Homo sapiens: one gene and its partners. The protein of the gene in region 6 purifies or fractionates together with the protein of the main gene of each other region. This does not show direct contact. Each region holds a gene or a part of one and is shown on either strand. Other genes may lie near its edges. The genes, in order: SRSF12, SIPA1L1, RPRD1A, MOB2, DDX50, DEPDC1B and PRP4K.

Region 1 (3,500 bases), on a different chromosome or scaffold from region 6:
CTATATATTATCTTCTCATGTAAAAAGATAAAGTTAAGTCTGTAACTTTAACAGAAGAATTAATCCCATAAACCCAAGTTAAATAACAATATATGATAAATAGAGAAGAGTGTTATCTTTTAACAAAAATTGATTATGTTTGTACATTAAGCAAAATGACTAAGGTGGACTGTTTATAAAAACTTTAAAATATTTTCCAGGCTGGGTGCAGTGGCTCACACCTGTAATCCTAGCACTTTGGGAGCCTGAGGTGGGAGGAACACTTGAGCCCAGGAATTTAAGACCAGCCTGGGCAACATAGCGAGACCTCCAATCTCTACAAAAAATTAAAAAAATTAGCCCAGTGTGGTGGTGCACACCTGTAGTACCCGCTACTTGGGAGGCTGAGGTGAGAAAATTGCTTGAGTCTAGGAGGTCAAGTCTACAGTGGGCCATGATCGCACACTACTGCACTCCAGCCTGGGAAACAATGAGACCCTATCAAAAAAATATATATCTATTTCCCAGAAAAAGTAGAAAATGAAATTTTCAGTCCTCTTATACTCACTCTTTAAGGCTGTCTGACCGCCTCCTATTTCTTCCCCATGAAGAACTTCTACTTCGAGTTCTTCTTTGGCTGGGGCTTCTTGATCTCCTGTGATCACTTGGAGAACAAGGATGACGTTCTTTTGATTTCATTTGGCCTGGTGCTGGAACATAAAGAACAAGACTTATGACATAATTCGTTACCTGAACACCACAGTAACAACCACTCAACTAGCAATCATTTACTGAAAGAATTTTAAATTAAAAAATCAGTCATCACTGAAACTCATTCTGCTGAATAAATAAAATCTAGCATTCAGTCACACTTACTTTTGCGATCACCTTGTGCAAACTGTATTTCAATCTGACGGCCACATACCCACTTTCTATTGAGGTTATAAAGAGCATCTTCAGCATCTCGAACATCTTCAAATATGACTAGCTGTTAAGGACACTTTGAACATGAGATATCAAGTAAACATATTTTAAAAGCATTATTTACATGTGAAATGAAATTAATAGGAAAATCAAGTTCAAGTTATTAAGCTCACATCTTCAATATAATATGAATAATCAGAAAAAAAACTTTCACTTTTTCTCATGAAAACAAATGACCCATTATGTTTAGAAGAGTGAGTCTAAAAATAAAAAGAACAAAACAAACATGTAACTGTACTTTTAGTGTCTACAATAGTGTGGCTGCAGTATGCATGTATAATTTGAAAACAAGAAAAACAAAAAAAAAGTCCAAATTTGGCTAGCATTATAAAATTACAAACTGTTTAGGACTCACTCCCTTCTTTCAGATAAAGGATCCATCAGATTTTTCACTGAATATCAGCATGCAGAAGCCTTTATTCTGAAATTAAAATTACTCTTTCATTAAAAGGCTTAATTTTAAATTTGACATTTAAGAGAGATTACTTATAAACAAAACTGCACATATACAAGTGAGTTAAAACAAAACCGGATTTAGTGCTTTAAAAATGGTATCTACTTTTGAACCTACCACTTTAAATGTTTATGTTTTTTTCTGTTTTTGAGATGGAGTTTCCCTCTTGTCACCCAGGCTGGAGTGCAATGGCGCGATCTCAGCTCACTGTAAGCCCAGGTTCAAGAGATTCTCCCGCCTCAGCCTTCCAAGTAGCTGGGACTACAGGTGCCCGGCACCACACCCGGCTAATTTTTGTATTTTTAGTAGACACGGGGTTTCACCATGTTGGTCAGGCTGGTCTCAAACTCCTGACCTGAGGTGATCCACCCGCCTCAGCCTCCCAAAGTGCTGGGATTACAGGCATGAGCCACCGCACCCAGCCAAACATTTATGTTTTTACTACTTGGGATATAAATATAAAAGAAACATAAAAGCAATCTGTAAATATCTGGAATTACATATACTGGTTTGTAATATCCCACTAAACTTCCTTATGTATATAAATTATATAATATTAAACCTAGCTATAATGGAAATTAGCTATATAAAAATAAGTAACTTTTTTTAGGAGGTTGTTCACTGGTTTAATTAAAAAAATAACAAACAGAAAAAGCTCAAGATACACAATATAAAACGAGACTGGCAATTACCTCAATGTCACTTGATCTTGAACCTTGACCTTTACTCTTTAAGGCTTGCAAGATGGACTTTATAAGAGACGCAGAACCAACAAAATCAGACTTGGCTTTGACTCTGGAACTCTGAGTAAATGTAGGAAAGCCGAAGTCTCAACCTGGTGTTGGCTTTGTCTTTTGCTTGATAAAGACTTCCCCTCTTCCAGGTCTTTATATCTGTGTCCACCCTCCCTCTTTACTCCTTGATGCTTGAACTTTAGGTGCCTTTTGTCTCGCCTGCTGGGTTTATGCTTGGATTCTAGCTAACAGGTTGGTTCAAACTGGGGGGTGCTTGCCAGCTACTGTGGACTGCTTTAGATCTTCTGAGATAAAGAAATAAACACATTTAATTAGGCAATATTAATCTCATAACATATGCTACTGAATACATATATGTATAAGCACGCATATACAGTATATTCACATGCACACAATAAAATAAAGGATATTGAACATAAGCAAATCCTCTTGGGCGGCGAGTGTAGAAGTCAAGTGGAATGTAAACGTCTACTATAGGGCCATATCGACCAAACTCACGGCGCAAGTCCTCAGGCCTGAAGTGTTTTAGAAATAAGGCAAAGAAATATGAATAGCTGGATTAAAATATTTTGCCTACAGAAATCCACTTGAAACCTTCAAAAGAAAGAACATCATCTAGACCAGCATTATCTAAAATTGTTTTTTGTAAGAATCATGCAAGGTTTTGAAAGAAAGGGAAAAAAGAAAGGAAAAAAACATTCTCAGGCCAGGTGTGGTGGCTCACACCTGTAATCCCAGCACTTTGGGGGACCAAGGTATGTGGATCACTTGAACCCAGGAGTTCAAGACCAGCCTGGGCAACATGGTGAAACCCCGTCTCTACAAAAAAATACAAAAATCAGCCAGGTGTGGTAGCGTGTGCCTGTAGTCCCAGCTACTCGGGAGGCTGAGGCGGGAGAATCACCTGAGTGAGCATGGGGAGGTTGAGGCTGCAGTGAGCCAAGATCACACCACTGCACTCCATCCAGCCTGGGTGACAGAGTGAGACCCTGTCTCAAAAAAAAAGAAAACACGAAAAAAACCTCCCTAGATTCTCAGACCTCTCTTGGAGGTTCTGATTCAGGAAGTATGGATTAGAGGCTGGAAATCTGTATCTTTACAAGCACTCCAGGTGGTTGTTATGCTTAATTTCCAGAAACACTGACCCAGCATATCCACCTCTGAAAGTTATTATAAGACCTAATAAGTAATTGTTTCACTAAGAACACATTCATTTTGCTTCACTTTAATTTCATGTTTATGTTAATCTTGTTTTCAGATAGCAAGAATTAGATTCTAAAGAAGTCCTAAAATTATTTATCAGGCTTTAAAGAAAAATGGATGTTTTA
Region 2 (3,500 bases), on a different chromosome or scaffold from region 6:
TCTTCAATTTTATTTGAAAGATGCATACTCTCTGATGATGCCATTTCTATTCCAAGAGTTCAGAAGAAACCGATTTTTTTATTGTTTCCCTAATACTAAGTATAATTGCATAATTTGTTCACTTTTAATTTGGAAAGAGCGATCTTCGATGTGTTAGAATCATTTCCAGTCATGTCAAACTTTACTAAAATCTTGGGAAATGATATAAAACACTCAACCTCTCTATTTCTATATCAACAACTTCCTTTGTTGTTTTAGGAGAAACTTACTTTTTTTCCTTTTGAGGTTAAAAATAATAAGTTATTACAAATGTTCATATGATCCTTTTCTTAGGCCCAATTTTAGGAATATATAGTCAGAAGAAATGACTGGAACAGGCTTTCTTATATCAATCTTGCTTAAAGGAATGGGAGAAGGAAAATATTTTTCTTAGAAATAGATTATCAGAATAAAATACCAAAAGGACCAAGGAATAGCTCAGTTTAAAAATATGATTTTAAAGCGTTGTTGCTATTACATAAAGATTCTCATACTATTACTCAGATTCCAATTTTCATTTTAAAATTATGCTTTTAATCTGGTTGCATAATGCCTCACACTTAGGCCAACAAATACTAGTTAAGTTTTATTGAAATTTAATTCATTTCTTTTATGGCATGCATCTTCTGATATTTTCAATGTAAGCTGTCTGCTTATAGCCATCATATCTAAAATGGAGAACACATTTGTGTTCTCACAGAATGTATGCTTGTTCTGAAAGATGATGTGGTTACAGTAACCTCCCTTGAAAACAGTTAGTAGGTATTTAAAATGTCTTACACAGAATATTACAGTAAACCTATTTTTTTTCATGGAGTTTTGGTCAGTTTCCTGTCTGGTAAAAAAAAAGTTAATAGTGTTAGCTTTTGGGATTTTGGGAGGTTTGTTTTTGGCCTAGAAAAAAAATTATGTTGTGTAAATCCTAAATGCGGTAGAATGAAAAAATATACTCGTATTAAGCAGAAATGTGTGTTGTTTCTCATGGAAAAATAAGCAGCTATTTTGTATCTGAGGTACATCTTTGTCTTTGAGAAAGTATATTTTATTCTGATGTTGTGAGACTGAGAAATACTGACGTGGCTCTCTTTGATCTTTGTCTCTCAGTGTGGCTGTTACCAGGTCCAGAGATGTGCCTTCCTTTGGGCCTCCCATTCCTAAAGGGGTCACTTTCCCTAAGTCAAATGTGTTCAGGGACTTCCTTTTGGCGAAAGTGATTAATGCAGAAAATGCTGCTCATAAATCGGAGAAGTTTCGGGCCATGGCAACTCGGACCCGCCAGGAATACCTGAAAGATCTGGCAGAAAAGAATGTCACCAACACCCCTATCGACCCTTCTGGCAAGTTTCCGTTCATCTCTCTGGCTTCCAAGAAGAAGGAAAAGTCTAAGCCATATCCAGGAGCCGAGCTCAGCAGCATGGGGGCCATTGTATGGGCAGTCCGGGCTGAAGACTACAACAAGGCCATGGAACTAGACTGCCTTTTAGGGATCTCCAATGAGTTCATTGTGCTCATTGAACAGGAAACAAAGAGCGTGGTCTTCAATTGTTCCTGTAGAGATGTGATAGGGTGGACTTCAACTGACACCAGCCTCAAAATCTTCTATGAACGAGGAGAATGTGTTTCAGTGGGTAGTTTTATTAACATTGAGGAGATCAAAGAGATTGTCAAAAGGTTGCAGGTGAGTCTCTCCTTCCTCTTCCTTACATGCAGTTTCTCTTTCATAAAGTTTTCAATACAGACTAGAGCCAAGTTACTGAACCTTGTGCTCTGTTATTAGCTCCTCTGAAAACTCCCTTGATGTGTGAAGCAAACAGAGTTTATCTCATGCTTGTGTTTTCCATGGATGTTTCGGAAAAGTAGAACAAATTGGGGAAGACACATTTACTCTGTGTGTGTGTGTGTGTGTGTGTGTGTGTGTGTGTGTGTGTGCGTTCATGTTCAAAACCCATTTGCATGTGACCTGTTCCCTGGTGCTGCAGTCCAGTCATCTGGTGGTGGTGTTGAAAAGAATTGCTTGAGTATCTGCTGCCTTGAATTTTACAAAGGCTAAATGAGTAGCAGTATATGGTTTCTATTTACTGCCAGCTCCCTGTAGGTCTCTGGTAGAGGTTTCCTTGTAACTTCAGGGAAGCCGTTGAGCTTTTTGGATGCAACAAGTATATTCCTTTTGGCCTAATGAATAGGAGATTAGTGAAGAGGAAATAACCAGACTGCTCTTCAGCTGGCAATAAGGTATTCAGAACTAACCCTGCTTGCAATGATTTTCCAGTTCCATGTCCACCACTTAATACCCTATTGCTTTAAACCACAGTATCTTTTATTTCCTTGTCTAGTTTGTTTCAAAAGGCTGTGAATCGGTGGAGATGACTCTGCGAAGAAATGGGCTAGGACAGCTTGGCTTCCATGTCAACTATGAGGGCATTGTGGCGGATGTGGAGCCCTACGGTTATGCCTGGCAGGCAGGGCTGAGGCAGGGCAGTCGCCTGGTGGAGATCTGCAAGGTGGCGGTAGCCACTCTGAGCCATGAGCAGATGATCGACCTCCTGAGAACATCTGTCACGGTGAAGGTTGTCATCATTCCCCCGCATGATGACTGCACCCCGCGGAGGTAGGTCTGAGGAGACAGCTGTGGGCCTGAGACTCGAGTGCAGGGTTTGTGTACCATGTAGAACATCTCTTAGCAGGTAGTGGAGTAGGGTGTTGTGAAGAACAATAGGTTACATGTGATGCTGAATGTTTCATCCATGGAGTCTGACTCAGGACGAAGCTCCCTTTCAGTGTGTGGTGACAGCAGCTGGAAAGAGTGACTAAATGGGACCATTCCCAGGATTTACATCACTGGATTTATAAAGTTGCCATGACAGATAGAGAAGTCTGGTAATATCTATCTTAAGAATTTTCCACTGGGAGCTGAGAAACATTGAACACATTGAACATTAAAAGACACTCAACATCTCAAATTGTCAGATTGCTTTTCTTCTATGTTCCATGATGCTCTTATTCTCTTCTCTCTCCTAATTGCTGCCCAAAACTCAGCAATTGTTTGGACCTTTGCTGTCTCAGTCTGGCAGCTGCTTTCCTAACTGTATCTGCATGTGCTAGGGTTTGGCTTCAGGTGAGCTGCCCCTGCTCATGGTGCTTTGGCATTTTGGTTCCTAGTCTTTTCCAGAAGGGAAAACCTAAGAGCTCCCTGCCCCACCCAACCCCCCACAGCTCCTGCCAAGCCAGCAGCACTGTTGAAAATTTAATTTCTCTGTCTCTGGGGAGGTTTATTGGTGGAAGAAATTTAATCAACTGTTTATTTTCTCCTTTGGACATGCACATGCTATTTTTGCTAGTTTTTAAGATCTCTCTTTTTAGTTTATGCCATTATTTTCTAAGAATTTCTCTTAAGCTTTGGCAATTGATTCTTAGGCTTTCTAAAGCCAAGACAGTGTTCTGTGTCCTATTTTGCCACTAAG
Region 3 (3,500 bases), on a different chromosome or scaffold from region 6:
AGCACTTTCACATATTCCCAGTGGCTGCAGGCCCAAGCCCCCCTACCCCCGCAACTTGTTCAAAGAGGTCTTTTATTAAACGTCACCTTGCAGAGATGATTTCCCTCTAACTAAAGATTTCCTCCTTCAAAGAACTAAACACGAAATTTATATTTAAAATTTTTTGTTTATTGGTTGCCCTTACCACAAGACTATAAATTCTGAGGGCAGGGATAAACTGTTTTCCCTTTGTTTTCTTTACCATTGTAATACACAATCAATAAATACAGGGTGAGTAAACATACTTTAAGGGGTTGAGGCACTTACAGTTTTGTTAAGACACCAATATAACATAAAAGAGGCTGGTACAAAGGATACAATCACTAGACTAGGGAAGGCAGTGACCTTCACCAACTACAAAGAATTTCCTCCTATCTATCTTGTTTTGTACAGCTCTTATAGAGATCTTTCAGCGAGTGTGTGTAGAAAAGAGCCCAAATGTTAGTGTTGGTTTCTAAGTTCAGGTATGTTCATGGTCAATATTTCTACAGAAATGAATATAAATTAATGATGTATATTAAGTTTTAAAATTTAGCCTAGTATTGACTGAGACATTTACAGTTTAAAACAGTCACCTTCAAAGGACACTATTAAGAAAGTAAAAAGACAACCCACTGAATGGAAGAAAATATTTGTGGTATGAATCTAATACAATACTTGTACCTAGAATACATTGGGAACACTTACAACTCAATCATAAAAAGACAAATTTTAAAATAGGCAGAATAGACATTTCTCCAGACAACATCCAAATGGCCAATAAGTACATGAAAATAGGCTCAGTGTCATTAGTCATCTGGGAAATGCATATCAAAATCATGAGATACCACTTCATACCCACTAGGACAGCTGTAATCAAAAAGATAACAAATATTAGCAAGGATGTAGAAAAACTGGACCCTCATACACTGCTTGTAGGAATGTATTTTAAAAACATGGCCGGGCGCGGTGGCTCACGCCTGTAATCCCAGCACTTTGGGAGGCCGAGGCGGGTGGATCATGAGGTCAGGAGATCGAGACCATCCTGGCTAACAAGGTGAAACCCCGTCTCTACTAAAAATACAAAAAATTAGCCGGGCGCGGTGGCGGGCGCCTGTAGTCCCAGCTACTCCGGAGGCTGAGGCAGGAGAATGGCGTGAACCCGGGAAGCGGAGCTTGCAGTGAGCCGAGATTGCGCCACTGCAGTCCGCAGTCCGGCCTGGGCGACAGAGCGAGACTCCGTCTCAAAAAAAAAAAAAAAAAAAAAAAAACATGTACCCACTGTGGAAAATAGCCTGGTGGATCCTCAAAAGGTTGAACATAGGATTCCCATATGACCCAGAAATTCCACTCCTCAGTAAGTATCCAAGATGAAAACATATCCACAAAAAAAAAAAGCTTGTACAGGAGTGCTCACAGCAGCATTATTTATAATAGCCAAAAAGCGGAAACAACTCGAACGTCTATCAACTGATGAATGGCTAAATTCATACAATATTCTATTCGGCCATAGAAAAGACTGAAGGACAGTAAGTGGTCTTTTGCAACTGGCTTCTTTTAATTAACATGTTTTCCAGGCTCATCCATGTTATAGCATGGATGGAAAACACACAAAAGACCACATACTATATAATTCTATTCATATGAAATGGTAAAAATAGTCCAATCTATAGAGGCAAAGTAAATTAGCAGTTGCCTAGGGTTGGGAGAGATGGGGGACTGGGGACAACAGCTAAATGGCATGGAGTTTCTTTCTGGGTAATAAAAATGTTCTAAAACTGGTGGTAGCTTTACAATTCTATAAACATATCAAAAACCACTGAATAGTATACTTTGAATGGATAAAAGGTGTGGTATGTGAATTACATCTTAATAAAGAAGTAACAAAATGGTCACTTACATTTTTGGTTACACTTTACTGCATTTATCAGGAAAATTGTATGCCATTTTGGTCTTCACAAAGGCCTTGAAGTTTATCCCTCCAAACAGAAACTCTTTCTTTAAAGGAGACAAAGATAAGGAAGGTAGGAAAAGAAGGGAAACCTTCATAACTGAATGGCTACCATTATCTAACATATATAATTTTACTTATTCATTCTTATATTTTTTTGTTTGTTTGTTTTCTGAGACAGGGCCTTGCTCTGTCGCCCAGGTTGGAGTGCAGTGGCGCACTTGGCTCACTGCAGCCTAAACCTCTTGGGCTCAAGTGACCCCCCAACCTCAGCCTCCTTAGGCCTGCGCCATCATGCCCAGCTAATTTTGGTATTTTCTGTAGAGACAGGGTTTTGCCATGTTGACCACGCTGGTCTCGAACACCTGAGCTCTGGCAATCCACTTCCCTCAGCCTCCTAAAGTGCTGGGATTACAGGCATGAGCCACAGTACCCAGCTCATTCTTTTATTTTAAACAGTAGCTTCTCCCACTCTCACATTTTTGTCTTTACACACTTTGAGAAACTAAAGAATGCCTAGCTTAACACAAAATGTTCAACTAATTTTCTTTAGTTTGTTGTAATATACTTTCAAGATTGATCGATTCCTTTCATAATTATTCTGCAGAAATAATGTGATTCAAGATATGGTAAAATAACTAAAAGAATGTCTGGTACTCAGTAACTGATTGCCATTATCATTAAACTACAGGAGATGAGAATCCTGAAGTTGATGAGCAAAACTGCAGGAAAGGGGAAGGACACAAAGGCTACACCCTGCAAAAGCAGTCATCTGTCAAGAAAAGGAAACCCTTGGCAGAGTAGCCCAGGCTAATATGAGGATTAAAGCGGCAGCGGTATGTTCATCAGCATCACCGTTACTATCAACACTATCATCACTACCACCCTCCTCCTAAAGCATCTTTTTATATGCTTTAACGTTTTCCACTTATGAAACACTTAAACATATGGAAACATCACAAACCTTGCTAAAAGCACATCTTACAATTTTACCACATTTGCACCATTTTCTTAAATACATTAAATATTAGATAGCTTTCTCCTATTGAGAGGTGACAACGTCCTAGCAGCCCTTGCTCGCTCTCGGCGCCTCCTCGGCCTCGGCGTCTGCTCTGGCCGTGCTCAAGGAGCCCTTCAGCCCGCTGCTGCACTGTGGGAGCCCCTCTCTGCGGCTGGCAGAGGCCGGAGCCGGCTCCATCTGCTCTCAGGGAGGTGTAGAGAGAGAGGCGCCGGCAGGAGCCTGGGCTACGCGCGGTTCCGGGTGGGTGCCTGCTGGGCTTGATGGGGGACGAGCTCCCTCTGGGCTGCTAGAGTGCCCAAGCTAGGTGCCGCAAAGTCCCGCGGCGAGTGCCATTGAGAGGTGAAGCCAGCTGGGCTTCTGGGTCAGGTGGGGACTTGGAAAACTTTTCTGTCTAGCTAAAGGATTGTAAACGCACCAATCACCACTCTGTGTCTAGCTCAAGGTTTGTAAACGCACCAATCAGTGCTCTGTGCCTAGCTAGAGGTTTGTAAACACACCAATCAGCACTCT
Region 4 (3,500 bases), on a different chromosome or scaffold from region 6:
TCCCAGGCTGCAGGCCTCACCGTGGGCATCGCCACCAGGCTGTCAGACCCTCTGAGAATGCAGAGACAACAGTCCTTTCAGCATCTGCTCCTCGAGAATGATGTAGAGGACGCACGTATCCCCACTGTCCTGGGGTTCCCAGATGGTGTAGGGGAGGCCCAGCCCCTAAGGGCCAGGCTGAGGCCCATGTTTCCAGGGCGAGGACCCAGCCAGGATGGCTCAGCACTCTGCAGGAGTCAGACACTGGCTCCAGGTACCCTGACACTGCAAGCTGACATCTGATGCACCTGGCCACAGGTGTGCGACAGGTCTCAAAACAGTGGAGGTTAGAGACGGAAACCCTTTTCCACAATGCAAACCCAGAGAAAGCAGTAACTCAGGGACACTGTGGATTGTCCCATCTGTTCTGAAAGATGGAACACCACTGTTTCCTGTACTTCTTCAATTATCAGTAAACCGTTTCTGGTATATAGTTCTAAGATTTTTATCCACATGTGGACTCACGCATTCATAACCACAATCAGGACACGCGGCGGCTTACGTGGCCCCTCACACCCGTGCTGCTGTGCCCCCAGCACCCCGGGGATGGCTCCTCAGGGATGGGCCGCGGGAAGGAATCGCACCGCGCGGATCCTCCCGATCTGGGCCCCTCTTGCACGGAGGCCCCTGGGATGCAGTCACGTGGCAGACGTGTCGGAAGTCCACGGCTCCTCACTGCCCAGACACTGCCCCTGCAGAGATGGACATGGCGTGCTCATCTATTCACCTGTGTCCCTGCCAGCAGAACAGAGTCCCAGGTGGCCACATCCTGGCCAGCACCAGTGTCCCGACCGGCATGTGGGCAGGTGGACATGGGTCTGCCCATGGTTTCGGCTTGCCTTTCTCTAATTGCTAACAACACAGGATAGCCCCAGCTGCCATCCTTACACCCTCTTTGGCAAACTGTCTGCTCATTTCTTTTGCTGACAGTTAACTGGACTGTTTTGTTTTCTTACTGCTGAGTTGTGTATGTTCTTTATGTATTCTGGATATCAGTCCTTTGTGGGATGTGTGATTTGCAAATGTTTTCTCTCCCAGCCTGGAGTTTGTCTTCTTTCTCTTAAAAGTGTCTTGAAGCAAAAGTTCTGAATTTTGCTGCCTAGTGTCAGGTCATAAGGATTTCCTATGGTTTCTTCCAAAAGCTTTGGAGTTTTAGATGTTTGCACGAGGCATGAGGGATAGGTCAGCGTTTGGTTTTTGACACAAATGACTGCTTTTCCCAGCAGCATTTTTGAACAGACTACCCTTTCTCCCTTGAATTTATTTTGCTCTTTGTCAAAACTCTGATGGCCCCGTTTGTGTGGGTCTATCTCCGGACTCTCCATCCACACGTTTGTGTGGGGCTGTCTCCGGACTCTCCATCCACACGTTTGTGTGGGTCTATCTCCGGACTCTCCATCCACACGTTTGTGTGGGGCTGTCTCCGGACTCTCCGTCCACACGTTTGTGTGGGGCTATCTCTGGACTCTACTGTGTTCCATGGAGCTCTGTATCCATTCCTTCAACACTGCACACTGTCTTAATTACTAGAGTTTCACAGTAAGTCTCAAAAGTGTGAGATTCCTCTTATTTTTTCAAAATCATTGTAGCTATTTCAGTTAATTTGTCCCTCCATATAAATTTTAGAACTAACTGGTCTATACTTGAACTCTGCTGGGATTTGGATTGAGACTGCACTAAATCAACAGATCAGTTTGGGGGAGAATTTGTGTTTGGAGTCATCTTCCAGGTGATAAACGCAGTGCGTCTCTCCATTTATGTAGACCTTCGATTTTCTGTAACAGCATTTCGTAGTTTCCAGGGTGCAGATCCTGGGAATGTCTTGTTAAGTTTATAACTAAGGATCGCATTATTTTTGGAGCTATTATAAATGGCATGTTAAATATTAATTTCAGTTTTAAATTTCACATTGCTAATATACAGACCTATGACTGATTTGTGCGTGTTGACCTCACTAAATTTATATTATTATTTGCTACAATCCTTGAGGTTTTCCCAATCACACGTGTGCACAGGGATACAGCAATCCCCCCCATCCACAGGGGATGCACTGCAAGACCCCCAGGGGATGCCTGAAGCCACAGAGAGCACCAAACCCTATATATGCTGCGCTTTCTCCTATACATACATTACTAAAATAAAGACAGGCAGACTTGATTGATTGACTGAGATAGGGTCTCGCTGTGTTGCTAAGTTAGTCTCGAACTCCTGAAGTGATCCACCGCCTCAGCCTCCTGAGTAGCCAGGATTACAGGTGTGAGCCACCACACCCAGTGTAATTCATAAACTGAGGACAATCAGTTGCAGTGAGTGGCTGGGGTCGCATATCAGGGGGTCCCTTGCTGGCCTCCTGCAGGCTCAATGGCAACACGCTGCTGCTCCCATCCTCTCACCTCCTCCACCCACAGATCCAAGTACTCAACACGCACTGTGGCTGTCACTTTTGCAATTTCAGATGTAACAGCGAAATTAAAGGGACTTTTTTTCCCTTTTTCACAATTTCATAAAGAAGAGATTTGTTCTTACCTTAGATCTTAGCAACCTCACACACAATCTGTTTCTTTCTAGTCAGGAACTTTCACCTTTTCATCTTTAGGTCAAGGAAGTGCTTTCTGTCTTCTCTTTGGCATATCTGAATTGCCAGCATCACGCTCTTGCGCTTTGGGCCGCCTCATGTCACATAAGAGCAACCTGAGCACGAGCACCCTGGCACTGCGGCAGTGGATCCACACGGGGGCCGAGGCACAGCTGGGCCGAGGGAGGAGGAGGCACACCTGGAGCAGGACGGTGGAGACCGCATCACACTGCTCAGAACAGCATGCAGTTGAAAACTTATTAACTGTTTATTTCGGGAATTTTCCATTAACTATTTTCAGACCATAGTTGACTGTGGGTAACGGAAACTGTAGATAAGGGGGGCTTATTGTTTTATTTCTTTTCCAATTTGGATGCCTTTTATTCTTTCTTCTTACCTTATGGCACTGCCTATCTTAGGCGAGTTCTGATATACTGCGCTTTCCAAAGAGTTGGTCCATTTAACCCAAGCCATAGAATTCATGTGCACAGAGGGTTTTTTTCCAATACTTCCTTATTATCCTTTTAACATCCACTGGGTCTACAGTGATACTCCTCTTTACATCCACAGGGTTTAGTGACACTCACTCCTTTTTATTGATCATTGCATCTTCTCTCTTATCTTTGTACCTACTAAAGGCTTACCAATTTATTACCTTTCAAAGTCATCACATTTTGATTTCACTCATTTCCCCTATTGTTTTAAAAATCAATCTCAGTGCTTTCTGTTCTTATTTACTTTCTTGTCCTTGATTTTGACTTATTTTGCTCTTTTTCTAGTTTAAGTTGGAAACGTAGATTACTGAAAGTCATCTTCTTTTTCTAAGAAAGCATTAATCCTATAAATCCCCTCTAGGCACTGCTTGAGTTATGTCTCACAAATTCTG
Region 5 (4,286 bases), on a different chromosome or scaffold from region 6:
AAAGGATGTGGAAAACCGCAGATCTAGAGATGCATAGCTATTCTCATAACCTAGGAAGAGAGGTGGATTTCTCCGTCATCAATAGCTGAACACTCCTTGTGTTTCTAAGTATTGAATCCATAAAGTTACATGCAAACATACAGCCCTTGCCTTCAGGCCAAGCCGTAGTTATGCAGAAGGCTTGAAGCAATCACAGATTTAACATTTGTGGTTCCAGCTATTCAGGACCAATTCCCAAACTCCACGACATGTAACAATTTGTAATTTTGCTAGGACACAGTTTGATGCTTAGGTTTTAAGGCTGGTGTGCTAGACGTTATCAAGTGGTTTGTGAGAGTAGCCCTGTGTCTCCATTGGGTAGAGTAGCTGGGTCGCAAGGATCATGAAGAGATGAAGAAATGGCTGTGAAAAGCCAACTAGCCTCGGTGATAGTAAGCAAAGGTATAGAAACACTAAGGAAGTTACCCTTTGTATTGTCAAAGGTTTCAGTTTTGTGTAAGGTGGTGATTCACGGGCAGTTAATCTCCATCACTAAAATTAAATCCTTTTTTATTCATTGCAAATAGATAATCTGTGGAAGACATTTTGGCTTTTCTCGCTAGCAGAAAATGTGAGGCTTCTTCAGGTTTTTCCTGTTCATTGTTTCACGGGAGCATCTTCCCCAAAACACTGCAAAACTCAAAGTTCTCAGGCTGATGTGGCAGAAAGAGCATTGATCTCGGCTTCAGGAGCTAAATTCTCTAGTCCTGACTGTGCCACTAACAGACTGTGGGACTTCAGACAAGTACATTCCTTTCTCGGGTTTCTTATGTCAAATGGACAGCGTGAGAAGGATCACAATGAACCAGGGATCAGCTTCACGATTAAAACCTAAGACTTAAGAGACGGACATCTGTCCGTTCCTGGCTACACCTCCGGCCCATCTGGCCCACCCCAAACTGCGCGAAGCCCCTCTCCACCGACGCCAGGCCTGTGGCCTCGCGCGAAGCTGTTGGTCGTTAACATCTCCCCCGCAATGGGCGGGATGGAGGGCTTCAGCTTCCGGCTGCAAATGGCGAGGCGGCGCGCGGCGTTGCCCACTGGCCTCGGCATGGGCCTGCCCACGCACCCGCCCAGCGCGCGCCGGACCCTGTCTACCGCCGTTGAAGGGCTTCCCAGCCCTAGCAGTGCGTACTGGGAAGCCCCCAAAAGGCTCTGCGAGGCCGAGGAGACCCGTTCGGAGTGGGGGAGGGGAAGATAAACCGAACTATTTATGTTAATCAGTGCATGCTTCCTTTATGGAGATTGGCCAGGGTTTTACTCTAGTAACCAATCACTTCAGAACAAGGGCGGGCCCGTTGATATCTCTCACACTCATTGGTTGAGAGGTTGCGGCGCAATGGAAGGTCTTAAACCGAGAGTATCCGGGATTATTTTTCCCCGCCGTGCGGTGCGTGTCCCGGAAGTGACGCATGGCCAAGGCCGGGCGGCCGCCTTGCCCCCGCTTCCTTTCACGCTGTCGCTGCCCGTAGGTGGTTGTGGCCACTGTGCCCGGAGGGAGGCGGCGGTGGCCAGTAATGCCTGGGAAACTCCTCTGGGGGGACATTATGGAGCTGGAAGCACCCTTGGAGGAGTCCGAGAGCCAGAAGAAGGAGAGGCAAAAGGTGCGCTGAGCATGGGCCGCGCCTCCTTTTGGGCTGCGCCGGCTTGGGCGGGGAGGGGAACTGTCTGTCCCTGATGATGGCCTGTCAGAACCGGGCCGGAGCATCCGAGGGCCTCCCTTCGCGCCGCCCTCGGCCCTCTGGGGTCGCTCAGGGACCGTTTCCACCTCCACCCTCCCGACCTGGAGAAAGATGGCCCTGGGCTTTGGGCCTCTCCTCCGCGTGGCCCCTCAGCCCTTCCCGTTGGCGCCTGAATCTCAGATGGGCAGACTCAAGCTCCCATCACCATGGAATCTGTTCTTTCTCTCCTGAAGCAGTGACGCTTGCCATTTCGTTTTCATTGGCCCTCTTAGAAGATGATTAAGAAAAAATGATTGCTTTGAATATGTGTTGCTTCTGTCACCCCGTCCCCTGTGCAAGAATCCTGGGGAAAGCGATCTTAGGTTTACAGACCTCAATAACTAGTCTGTAGAGGCTTAAGGAAAAGTGTCACTGAGACTTGCCAGGATTTGTCAGTGATGGAGATCGTGTGGGTTGCATTATTAATAGCCTTTACTGTCAGTATTTTCATTCAATCCGCAGGTGTTTATTGAACCTAATTTGTACCATACTCTTTGCTGAGTACCAAGGAGGTTAAACTAAATAAGTAAAGAAATGGTCTCTGCTCTCAAGGAGCCTGTAGAGGAGTTGTAGTCTTTCCTCCTCCCAGCCCCCTGCCCTCCAAAAAAAAAAAAAAAAAAAAAGGAAAAGAAAAAACATCCTGAAACACTCAGAGGATCACAAGGTGCTGAAAAAATGCCCAGGTAAAATTATTACTGGAGACATTTGACCTGGAAAAAAGAAATCAGCTGAAGAGGCTAAGGTGGCAGTATTCGAAGGCTGACATTCGACAAAAGAATGAGACTTATTTTGTATAGCCTTAGAAAGCAGAATCTACCTCTCTGACCTTATCACTAAGGTAAACTTGCCATTTCAGCTAACACTTTTATTGTGCTAAAATACACATAACGTTTATCATTTTAACCATTTTTAAGTATATAGCTCTGTGACATTAAGTATATTTACATCGTTTTGCAGCTGTCACCATCATCCATCTCCAGAACTTTTCATTGTCCCAGACTGAAACTCTGTGCCCATTAAACACTCACTTCTCATTCCTCTCTCCTTCCACTCCCGGCAACTACCATTCTACTTTCGCTCTGTGAATTTGACTACTGAAGTTACCTAGAGTGTAAGCAGAAAACCAAGCAGGTATTTTAAAAAAGGCTTCTTTTGAAATTCTTGTCTTTTGCATCCCAATCCTGTCCAGCGGTCAAGGCCTAGTTTATGTCTTTCCTGACAACCCGAATGTACCGTTATCTAGTTTCAGTGGCTATCTTCATCATTTGATTGACATTTGTTATGCATGTCTATATAAAATTAGTTCATTTTTCCTGTATGTATCCCACATATTTCCCAAAAGTTCTTGAGGAAAGTGACCAAATCTTTATCCATCCTTATGTTTCACTATGTTGTTTTAAATTGGTGGCTTTCACATTGTAAATTCTCCAGAAATACATATTGACTGCCCTTTAACTATGAAAGATAACCAGAGATTTGGAAACGAATTGGAATACCAACTAAAAGAAATAGAGCATTAGAATACAGGTCTGGTGGCTAGCTGCAGTGGCTCATGCCTGTAATCCTAGCACTTTGGGACGCTGAGATGGGAGGATTGCTTGAGCCCAGAAGTTTAGGTAGAGTTTTGTAGAGACCCTGTCTCTACAAAAAATAAAAAAATTAGCCGGGTGCGGTGGCTCATGCCTGTAATCCCAGCACTTTGGGAGGCTGAGGCAGGCAGATCACCTGAGGTCAGGAGTTCAAGACCAGCCTGGCCAACATGGTTAAATCCCATCTCTGCTAAAAATATAAAAATTGGGCCGGGCATGGTGACTCACTCCTGTAATCCCAGCACTTTGGGAGGCTGAGGCGGGTGGATCGTGAGGTCAGGAGATCGAGACCATCCCGGCCAACATGGTGAAACACCATCTCTACTAAAAATACCAAAAAAGGCCAGGTGCGGTGGCTCACGTCTGTAATGCCGGCATTTTTGGAGGCTGAGGCAGGTGGATCACCTAAGGTCAGGAGTTCGAGACCAGCCTGGCCAACATGGTGAAACTCCGTCTTTACTAAAAATACAAAAATTAGCTGGGCATGGTGGCACATGCCTGTAATCCCAGCTACTCAGGAGGCTGAGGTAAGAGAATCGTATGAACCCGGGAGGCTGAGGTTGCAGTGAGCTGAAATCGCACCACTGCACTGCAGCCTGGGTGACACAGCGAGACTCCATTTAAAAAAAAAACCCAAAAAACCCAAAAATTAGCTGGGTGTGGTGGCGCGTGCCTGTAATTCCAGCTACTCGGGAGGCTGAGATACAGGAATTGCTTGAACCTGGGAGGCAGAGGTTGCAGTGAGCCGAGATCGCACCATTGCACTCCAGCCTGGGTGACAGAGCAAGACTCCGTCTCAGAAAAAAAAAAAAAAAAATTAGCTGGGCGTGGTGGCAGACGCCTGTAATCCCAGCTACTCGGGATGCTAAGGCAGGAGAATTGCTTGAACCCAGGAGGCAGAGGTTGCAGTGAGCCAAGATCACGTCATTGCACACCA
Region 6 (3,500 bases):
AATCCTGTGCTACGGACTTTTCTTCAAGTAGTCATTTCACTATACCAAGTACCTATGGATATTACCATACCTTTAAACAATTTTCACATATTTTTAATCATTGATTATTGATTTTTTTAATACATGCCCTGATACCTAGCTTTCATTTATCATTAGATTGTTGTACCGAAAAGGCATAATCAAGTATGTAGGGCCGGGGGAAGGGGTAATAAAAAAGATTTTTGTTTATGTTGGTTGAACAATCATAATCATGAACTAAAATTACCTAATGCATAATACCTTATGCATTACATAAACATAATGAAGGCATGGCTCTCTGGGACCCAATATTTCCAAATATCACTAGGTATATCCACTAATTGACCCAGTCTGGTTAGCAGTTCTGTTGTTCTTTTAATTACAGAAGTAATAACACTCATTGAAACAAACAAATTAAATACAGAAGTATACACAAAAGAGTTTGCATGTCTTACTCCATACCTATCACATACAGACACATAGACAGAATTTTTCCTTTGTAGGTGTGTCATTTATTGTTGTTTGCCATTTTAAAAAATGAGATCAATCATGTTGTATATGTTATCCTAAAACACGCTTTTGCACCTAACAGATACCTCCCTGCGTCATACCTGCAGATCTAGCCCATTCTTAAGAATGTGCCATAATTTATTCTGCCATTTTCTAACAAATGGTCATCCAAGTTCTGCCCAGTTCAATTTTTACAAATATGTTACAAGTTATACTTGTTTATATAACCTAAAGTACCAAGGCTTTTGTTTACTTTTGATAGACTTCTAAAAAGTATCAGCATATTTAAATCAGTTGTAGCAATTCACACTTCCACCAACAATGTGGGAGCCTAAAGCCTTACACTTTGGCCTACACTAGATGTTATCATTTCTTTCATTTCTGCCAATCTATGTAAAAGAAATGATAGATCCATATTTTGTTTGCATTTTCATATCTTTACCTTTAGTCATATTCATTTCTTCTTCTGAGATTTGCCATTTTTCTATTGGGTTATCTCTTTTTTAAAATCAATTTTAAGAACTGTTTAATCTGTTAATGTTTAAAGGGCACAGAAGTCAGGAAAGTTAATCGATTTTGTTCAGCTCAATATCCTCACAACAAAGACCAGTGCCTGACATATAGTATACCCATTTAATATGTACTGATGAATATAGAATATTAAACCTTTTTGTTATATGTTACAAATGTTTTATCTTAGCCTATCAATTTCTTTACATAGTCTCTAGCTATACAATGATTTTGTTGTAGATGTTGATGTTTTTATAAGGAAATAATTATCTATTTTCTTTATCAGTTCAGGGTTTATTCTCTTAAGAAAGCTTCCCTATCCTGAGGTATTAAAATATTTATCAAAATTTCCTTTTAATATTTTAGAGGGTATGTTTTTTAATATGTAAACCTTTAACTGAATTTTATATGGTGGGAGGCAGGGGATCTCTATTTTTTTCTGGATGGAGAGTTGTGTTAGTCCATTCTTGCGTTGCTGTAAAGAAATACCTGACACTGGGTAATTTATAAAGGAAAGAGGTTTAATCAGCTTACGGTTCTGCAGAGTGTACAAGAAACATGGTGCCAGCATCTGCTCAGTTTCTGGTGAGGCCTCAGGAAGCTTTTATTCAAGGCAGAAGGTGAAGCGGAAGCAGGCAGAAGGAGGCACATAACACAGCAAGGGGGGAACAAGAGAGAGTGAGGGACAGGGTGCCACACTTTTAAACAATCAGATCGCACATGAACTCAGAGTGAATACTCACTCATTGTCATGAGGACAGCAACAGGCCATTCATGAGTGATCTGCCCCAGTGACCCAAACACCTCCACTAGGCCCCACCTCCAACACTGTGGATTACATTTCAACATGAGATTTGGAGGGGATAAACGTCCAAACCATATCAAGAGTCAATTATGCCATGCTTTTCTAAATGAACAGAAATATTATTAAGTAACCTTACATATCACACTTCTTGATTGTTTCTATCCCACTGAGCGACTATCTGTTCCTGTGTAATACCATACAGTTGTCATTACAGTCAATTAATACCAAGTATAAATCCCTGGTAGGACAAGGCCCCTGTCTTCTTTGTAAGGGAATGTGAAAACTTCTTTCTTTTTTTATTTTTTTTGAGACAGAGTCTCGCTCTGGTGCCCAGGCTGGAGTGCAGTGGCGTGATCTCGGCTGACTGCAACCTCCGACGCCCTGGTTCAAGTGATTCTCCTGCCTCAGCCTCCCAAGTAGCTGGGATTACAGGCATGTGCCACCACACCCAGCTAATTTTTGTATTTTTAGTTGAGACGGGGTTTCACCATGTTGGCCAGGATGGTCTTGATCTCCTGACCTCGTGATCCACCCGCCTCGGCCTCCCAAAGTGCTGAGATCACAGGCATGAGCCACCGCACCCAGCGTGAAAATTTCTTTTTGTGAAGTTCATTTCTTTTTGTGAGGGAAAACTTTTTTCAGTTCTCAGAATTTTACTCTTCAGCATGAGCTTTCAATTCATTGCATTCTCCCACACAGGAAAAAAAAATCCATTAGGATTCAGAATGGATTAACTGCTCTATTGCTACTGACTTTTATTTCATACTAGAAAATGTCTAATAAAACATCTTTATCAAAGTCTCATTGCCCCTTTTAAAAAGAGCATTTATAAATAGACTTTTGAATTTACTCATTTTGATTTTGAATGGCATTTATCATTATGGGTTATATTTCCTTAATATATGAAATACTTTAGATTTTTTAAAGCCTACTGAGGTCACTTTGGTCTCTGTTCCCACTTATTTCCAAATATAACTAAGGGGTTATTTGGCTACTCTGCTCAGAAAGAAAAATAAGTATCTTTAAATAATCTAACAATATACCATTCTCAGTCACTTTTGGAAACAAAATATCCTCTGTCAATAAATAACAAGAAAGAGCTTGAGTTTTTTTTTCATGACATTATATTTGAAGAGAATCTTTACAACAAATGGAACAAAACAGATTTGTTTTATGATTTTAAAACACTTTTTGTTTTGCTCTACTTATTAATTTCAGTCCCCTAGTTTCTCAGGAAAAAATAAAATCACACAATTGTTTTTTCTTAACATGATGAGGCAAACTATAAGACATACACCTACTGCTGTGCATCCTGTTCTTTTCTCCAGGATATTCCATTTCATTTCTTCTTAGTACCAAAAATATTATGATAGCGGTGCTATAAAGAAAACTGACTGGTCTGGGAGTTCAGTGACAACCACTCCTAGATCTACTTGCACTTGCCACAACCTCGTTGTGTGATCTTGCCATTCTAACTCTCAGATTCAATGAAAGCTGTATGTCTTTTAAAATTTATCAGTTGCATCAGACCATATATATAACTCAGAATAAGTTCAAAGATTTAAGCAGTTTCTAGAAAAAAAATTTTTCTCTCTACTTGAATGAACTATTTATACCAAGTTTACAAAGATGAAAGTTATTTCAGTGAAAATGTATA
Region 7 (3,500 bases), on a different chromosome or scaffold from region 6:
AGCACGCCTTCTGGCCAAATGTGGAAAGGTGGGGGTTCTGAATGTACTGAAGAGAGGTCTGAAAACTGAAGAAAGCAGTTGGATTTGTCATTCTGAGGAACTTAAATATTATTTCATAGGTAACAGGGAGCCAACAAAGGTTTTTAAGCAGGGATAGGAACATGACCAGATATGTTTTCAGAAACATCACTCTAGCAGCAATAAGAAAGCTGGATGGGAAGCCAGACCAAGAAAGTAATCCAAAGAAGATGTGACGAGGGCCTAAATATGACCTATAATAAAAATAAATTAATTATGCTAGAAAAACATTTTAAAATCCCTCCATCTTTTCCATGGTCTGATGTGTTTTATTTAGGAATTGGTCGACAGCAAAAAGGAAATACTTACTTTTGGGTTTTTGTTTTTTTTTTAATTCACCAGCTCGTATGATTTAGTACTCAGTTAACAATAAAATAACTATTGCATGCTGCATTTAAAACACTTACCCTCTCTGTTACTTTATCAACTTCTATGTACATGAAGTTGAGATTTTGATCAAAATGCTGATCTTTGAACACACCTTTTCGAATCATCTACAAAACAAAACAAAAACTTGGGTTTTGAACTATTATGAAACAGGCCTACTAACAATTTAATTAATATACAATAAGTCAAATAAGTATGTTATTTAGTCTCTGTAGGTTTGTTTGATCTCAGATTCCCTTGATCCCAGGAATTCATTAACATCTTTGCAAAAGCAAATACCAATGCTGTACCTAAAACTACTTAATAACATGAAATTATATTTGTCCAGGCAGTGACTTAAAACAATTATAACATCAAATTGTCCTTTCACTATTTAAAATTGGAGAGTCAACAAAGACTTTAAATTATTTCTTCCTAAAAATATCACAAAACTCAGGTTTTTTCTCCTTGGCAGTTAGGGAACCTAATGCCACTTTACTAATTATGTTCCAACAGCCCTGATACAGGTCAGACTTCATTAAAACTAATACCAACATAGCTCATTTTTATGTAACTTATTCTAAAAAAAGTCCAACCTAATAGAATTTGGACAATATGTACAAATCAGCCTGGTCAACATAGTGAAACTCCATCTCTACAAAAAAATTATTAAATAAATTAACTGGTTGTGGTGGCACATGCCTGTAGTCCCAGCTACATTGGAGACTGAGGCAGGAGAACTGCTTGAGCCCAGGGGTTCGGTTCAAGGCTGCAGTGAGCTATAACTGTACTCCAGTCTGGGACACAGAGCAAGATCCAGTCTCAAAACAACAACAACAACAAAACACAACTGAAAACCATACAGTTTTCTGACCTTTACGAAAAATGTGTAAATCTTTAGAAATTCAGCAAATAGGCTGAAATCTTAAAAAGCTAAGTTACAGCCGGGTGCGGTGGCTCATGCCTATAGCTACTCGGGAGGCTGAGGCAGGAGAATGGCATGAACCCGGGAGGCAGAGCTTGCAGTAAGCTGAGATCGCGCCACTGCACTGCAGCCTGGGCGACAAAGCAAGACTCCGTCTCAAAAAAAAAAAAAAAAAAAAAGCTAAGTTATGGCCCTCAGATACTTTAATAAATGCTTACATTCTTGCTTCATGTTAAACAGAAACTAGCATTATAGCTGAAGTATCAGCGGTGAGTTAGAAAGATATTAAATAAGAAAAGGTACCAAGAAAGGTACCTTACTTTCTCAAATAACCTCCAATCTTTAATAAATTAATTAACATCAAGTTCCTCTTACAATATCTAATATTCACCTATTCATTCTCTGACCACTAAGCATGTTCTTGTATTTTACCTAATTCAACTTACATCTTTTTCCATTCTGTCTTCCAAACATTTTGAAACTTTTACCCATAAGGGTGTATCCCCAAAATATTGCTGCTCTCTGTCCATCATTGAACAAGTTCTCTTATCCTTAGCGCTTGGCTGATTAGAACCACTAATTTAAAACACCAGAAAAGGGAAAGACCCTAAGAAATCATGATAGCCATCTACCCACCTTTCTGAAATTTTTGTTTTATAGCTCACTAGTGGTGAGCAAGTGTCAGCAGTCTTGTCAGTTAATAAGAAACTAAGACCTTAAAGAAGCTCATGCTAATGTCTTACCTTATTTGGCATCTTTCCTTTGAGATCCATTGCAAGCTTCAGCATATGGTTATTGGTTTTGCCAGGGAATAAAATTTTTCCAGTATAGAGTTCGTATAAGGTGCAACCTACAGACCACATATCTATACCATAGTCATAGCTTTTACCTATAACTGAAAACAAAATCAAAGTTTTAATATACGAGGATAGAGAAAACTGACGACTATTAATTTTTATTTCCATTAATGAGGGGCTGGCTACCTTAGCTTGGACTATAACCACAATCTTCATGCCTTAGTTTGACAATTAGTTTTGTGTTCTTTCCCACTAATTCTTAATAGAGACTCAAACTTAAAAACCTTAAAAAATGGAGGTGTAGGGGAGGAACTTAAAGGGCAAAAGAAAATATGTATTTCTTCTCTTTTCTCATTTCGCCTTTGGTGGAGGTGCTAATCAGCCTCAACCAAGGCAACAGGAAAAAACAAAGGTCCCATACAATCCATAAATGTGATAATCAGACCTTGAATAATCAAGAGCAGTCTTCTAAAGTCGAGGATTTTCCACAACTGTTTTGCTACTCTTGCCCGACATGATCAAGACTCCTGTCACAACTACCTTCATTCCACCTGAGGAGGATGAACTTGCTATGGTTCCCTTCCTCATGAATGAACTCGTGCAGCTGCTGAAGTGTGATGGAAAACAGTGCTTAGACATTAAGTATGCGGTTTCCACCACATATGATGGCCCAGGTCAAAGAACATTAAGAAACTTACTGATTTCAGGAGCACGATAAAATCTACTGACAAGATAAGGTGTTATGTCATTATCCGCAACATGTGAAGCCGACCCAAAATCGCAAAGCTTTAAAATAGTTTTGGATTCATTAACCTGCAAAACATTTTTTCAAGGGAATTTAATTCAAGCCAGGAATAATTAATACAAATAAATAAAAATTATTGGCTTTGAAAAGTTTTATTAATTCCAATACTGAGAACAAAGACATTCATTTAAAAATTCCTTTTCTATTTATTTTTAATTCAATTTCCTAACTATGAAAAGTTAATATGTATCAAATATTCATTACAATGAGTAAAAACTGTTTTCAGTGAGGAAATGGATATCACAAAGTACATTTAATTTTAACAACTGCATTTTTAAAAGGGTGGGGTACTGAGAGAAAAATCTAATTTCATGAAGCAAAGCATCTTCTAAAAAGACCCTGAATACCTGAATAAAGTCAAGTTTTATAACTAAGGAATCAGACTTAACTTTCAGTTGCCAGAGAATTACAATGGCAATGAAAGCAGAAGGGTGATTCAGAATAAACTTGGACAAAAACAAAATATTCTTCATCCGAAGCTGCTATATGATCCCAAATTTAGCAATCACTTCAAGTCTAAAAAATATTA

The links.
Region 1: the proteins of DEPDC1B (region 6) and SRSF12 purify together in Homo sapiens (affinity purification with mass spectrometry, with the first as the bait; one large-scale study listed by BioGRID). This does not show direct contact.
Region 2: the proteins of DEPDC1B (region 6) and SIPA1L1 purify together in Homo sapiens (affinity purification with mass spectrometry, with the first as the bait; one large-scale study listed by BioGRID). This does not show direct contact.
Region 3: the proteins of DEPDC1B (region 6) and RPRD1A purify together in Homo sapiens (affinity purification with mass spectrometry, with the first as the bait; one large-scale study listed by BioGRID). This does not show direct contact.
Region 4: the proteins of DEPDC1B (region 6) and MOB2 purify together in Homo sapiens (affinity purification with mass spectrometry, with the first as the bait; one large-scale study listed by BioGRID). This does not show direct contact.
Region 5: the proteins of DEPDC1B (region 6) and DDX50 purify together in Homo sapiens (affinity purification with mass spectrometry, with the first as the bait; one large-scale study listed by BioGRID). This does not show direct contact.
Region 7: the proteins of DEPDC1B (region 6) and PRP4K purify together in Homo sapiens (affinity purification with mass spectrometry, with the first as the bait; one large-scale study listed by BioGRID). This does not show direct contact.

What each region holds. Positions count from the first base shown.
Region 1 is NC_000006.12:89,104,572-89,108,071, forward strand, and holds part of SRSF12 (serine/arginine-rich splicing factor 12), read right to left. Parts: intron 2,688-3,500; coding exon 2,583-2,687; intron 2,457-2,582; exon of another isoform or gene 2,110-2,456; intron 1,385-2,109; exon of another isoform or gene 1,319-1,384; intron 980-1,318; exon of another isoform or gene 960-979; coding exon 856-959; intron 690-855; coding exon 548-689; intron 1-547. UniProt on the Homo sapiens protein: Splicing factor that seems to antagonize SR proteins in pre-mRNA splicing regulation.
Region 2 is NC_000014.9:71,669,976-71,673,475, forward strand, and holds part of SIPA1L1 (signal-induced proliferation-associated 1-like protein 1), read left to right. Parts: intron 1-1,143; coding exon 1,144-1,717; intron 1,718-2,372; coding exon 2,373-2,647; intron 2,648-3,500.
Region 3 is NC_000018.10:36,061,060-36,064,559, forward strand, and holds part of RPRD1A (regulation of nuclear pre-mRNA domain-containing protein 1A), read right to left. Parts: intron 1-3,500. UniProt on the Homo sapiens protein: Interacts with phosphorylated C-terminal heptapeptide repeat domain (CTD) of the largest RNA polymerase II subunit POLR2A, and participates in dephosphorylation of the CTD by RPAP2.
Region 4 is NC_000011.10:1,473,280-1,476,779, forward strand, and holds part of MOB2 (MOB kinase activator 2), read right to left. Parts: intron 1-3,500. UniProt on the Homo sapiens protein: Stimulates the autophosphorylation and kinase activity of STK38 and STK38L.
Region 5 is NC_000010.11:68,899,829-68,904,114, forward strand, and holds the start of DDX50 (ATP-dependent RNA helicase DDX50), read left to right. Parts: upstream 1-1,486; 5' UTR 1,487-1,556; coding exon 1,557-1,643; intron 1,644-2,227; exon of another isoform or gene 2,228-2,598; intron 2,599-4,286. UniProt on the Homo sapiens protein: ATP-dependent RNA helicase that may play a role in various aspects of RNA metabolism including pre-mRNA splicing or ribosomal RNA production.
Region 6 is NC_000005.10:60,693,667-60,697,166, forward strand, and holds part of DEPDC1B (DEP domain-containing protein 1B), read right to left. Parts: intron 1-3,500.
Region 7 is NC_000006.12:4,055,800-4,059,299, reverse strand, and holds part of PRP4K (serine/threonine-protein kinase PRP4 homolog), read right to left. Parts: exon of another isoform or gene 3,048-3,500; intron 2,980-3,047; coding exon 2,865-2,979; intron 2,774-2,864; exon of another isoform or gene 2,612-2,773; intron 2,265-2,611; coding exon 2,113-2,264; intron 573-2,112; coding exon 486-572; intron 1-485. UniProt on the Homo sapiens protein: Serine/threonine kinase involved in spliceosomal assembly as well as mitosis and signaling regulation. Connects chromatin mediated regulation of transcription and pre-mRNA splicing.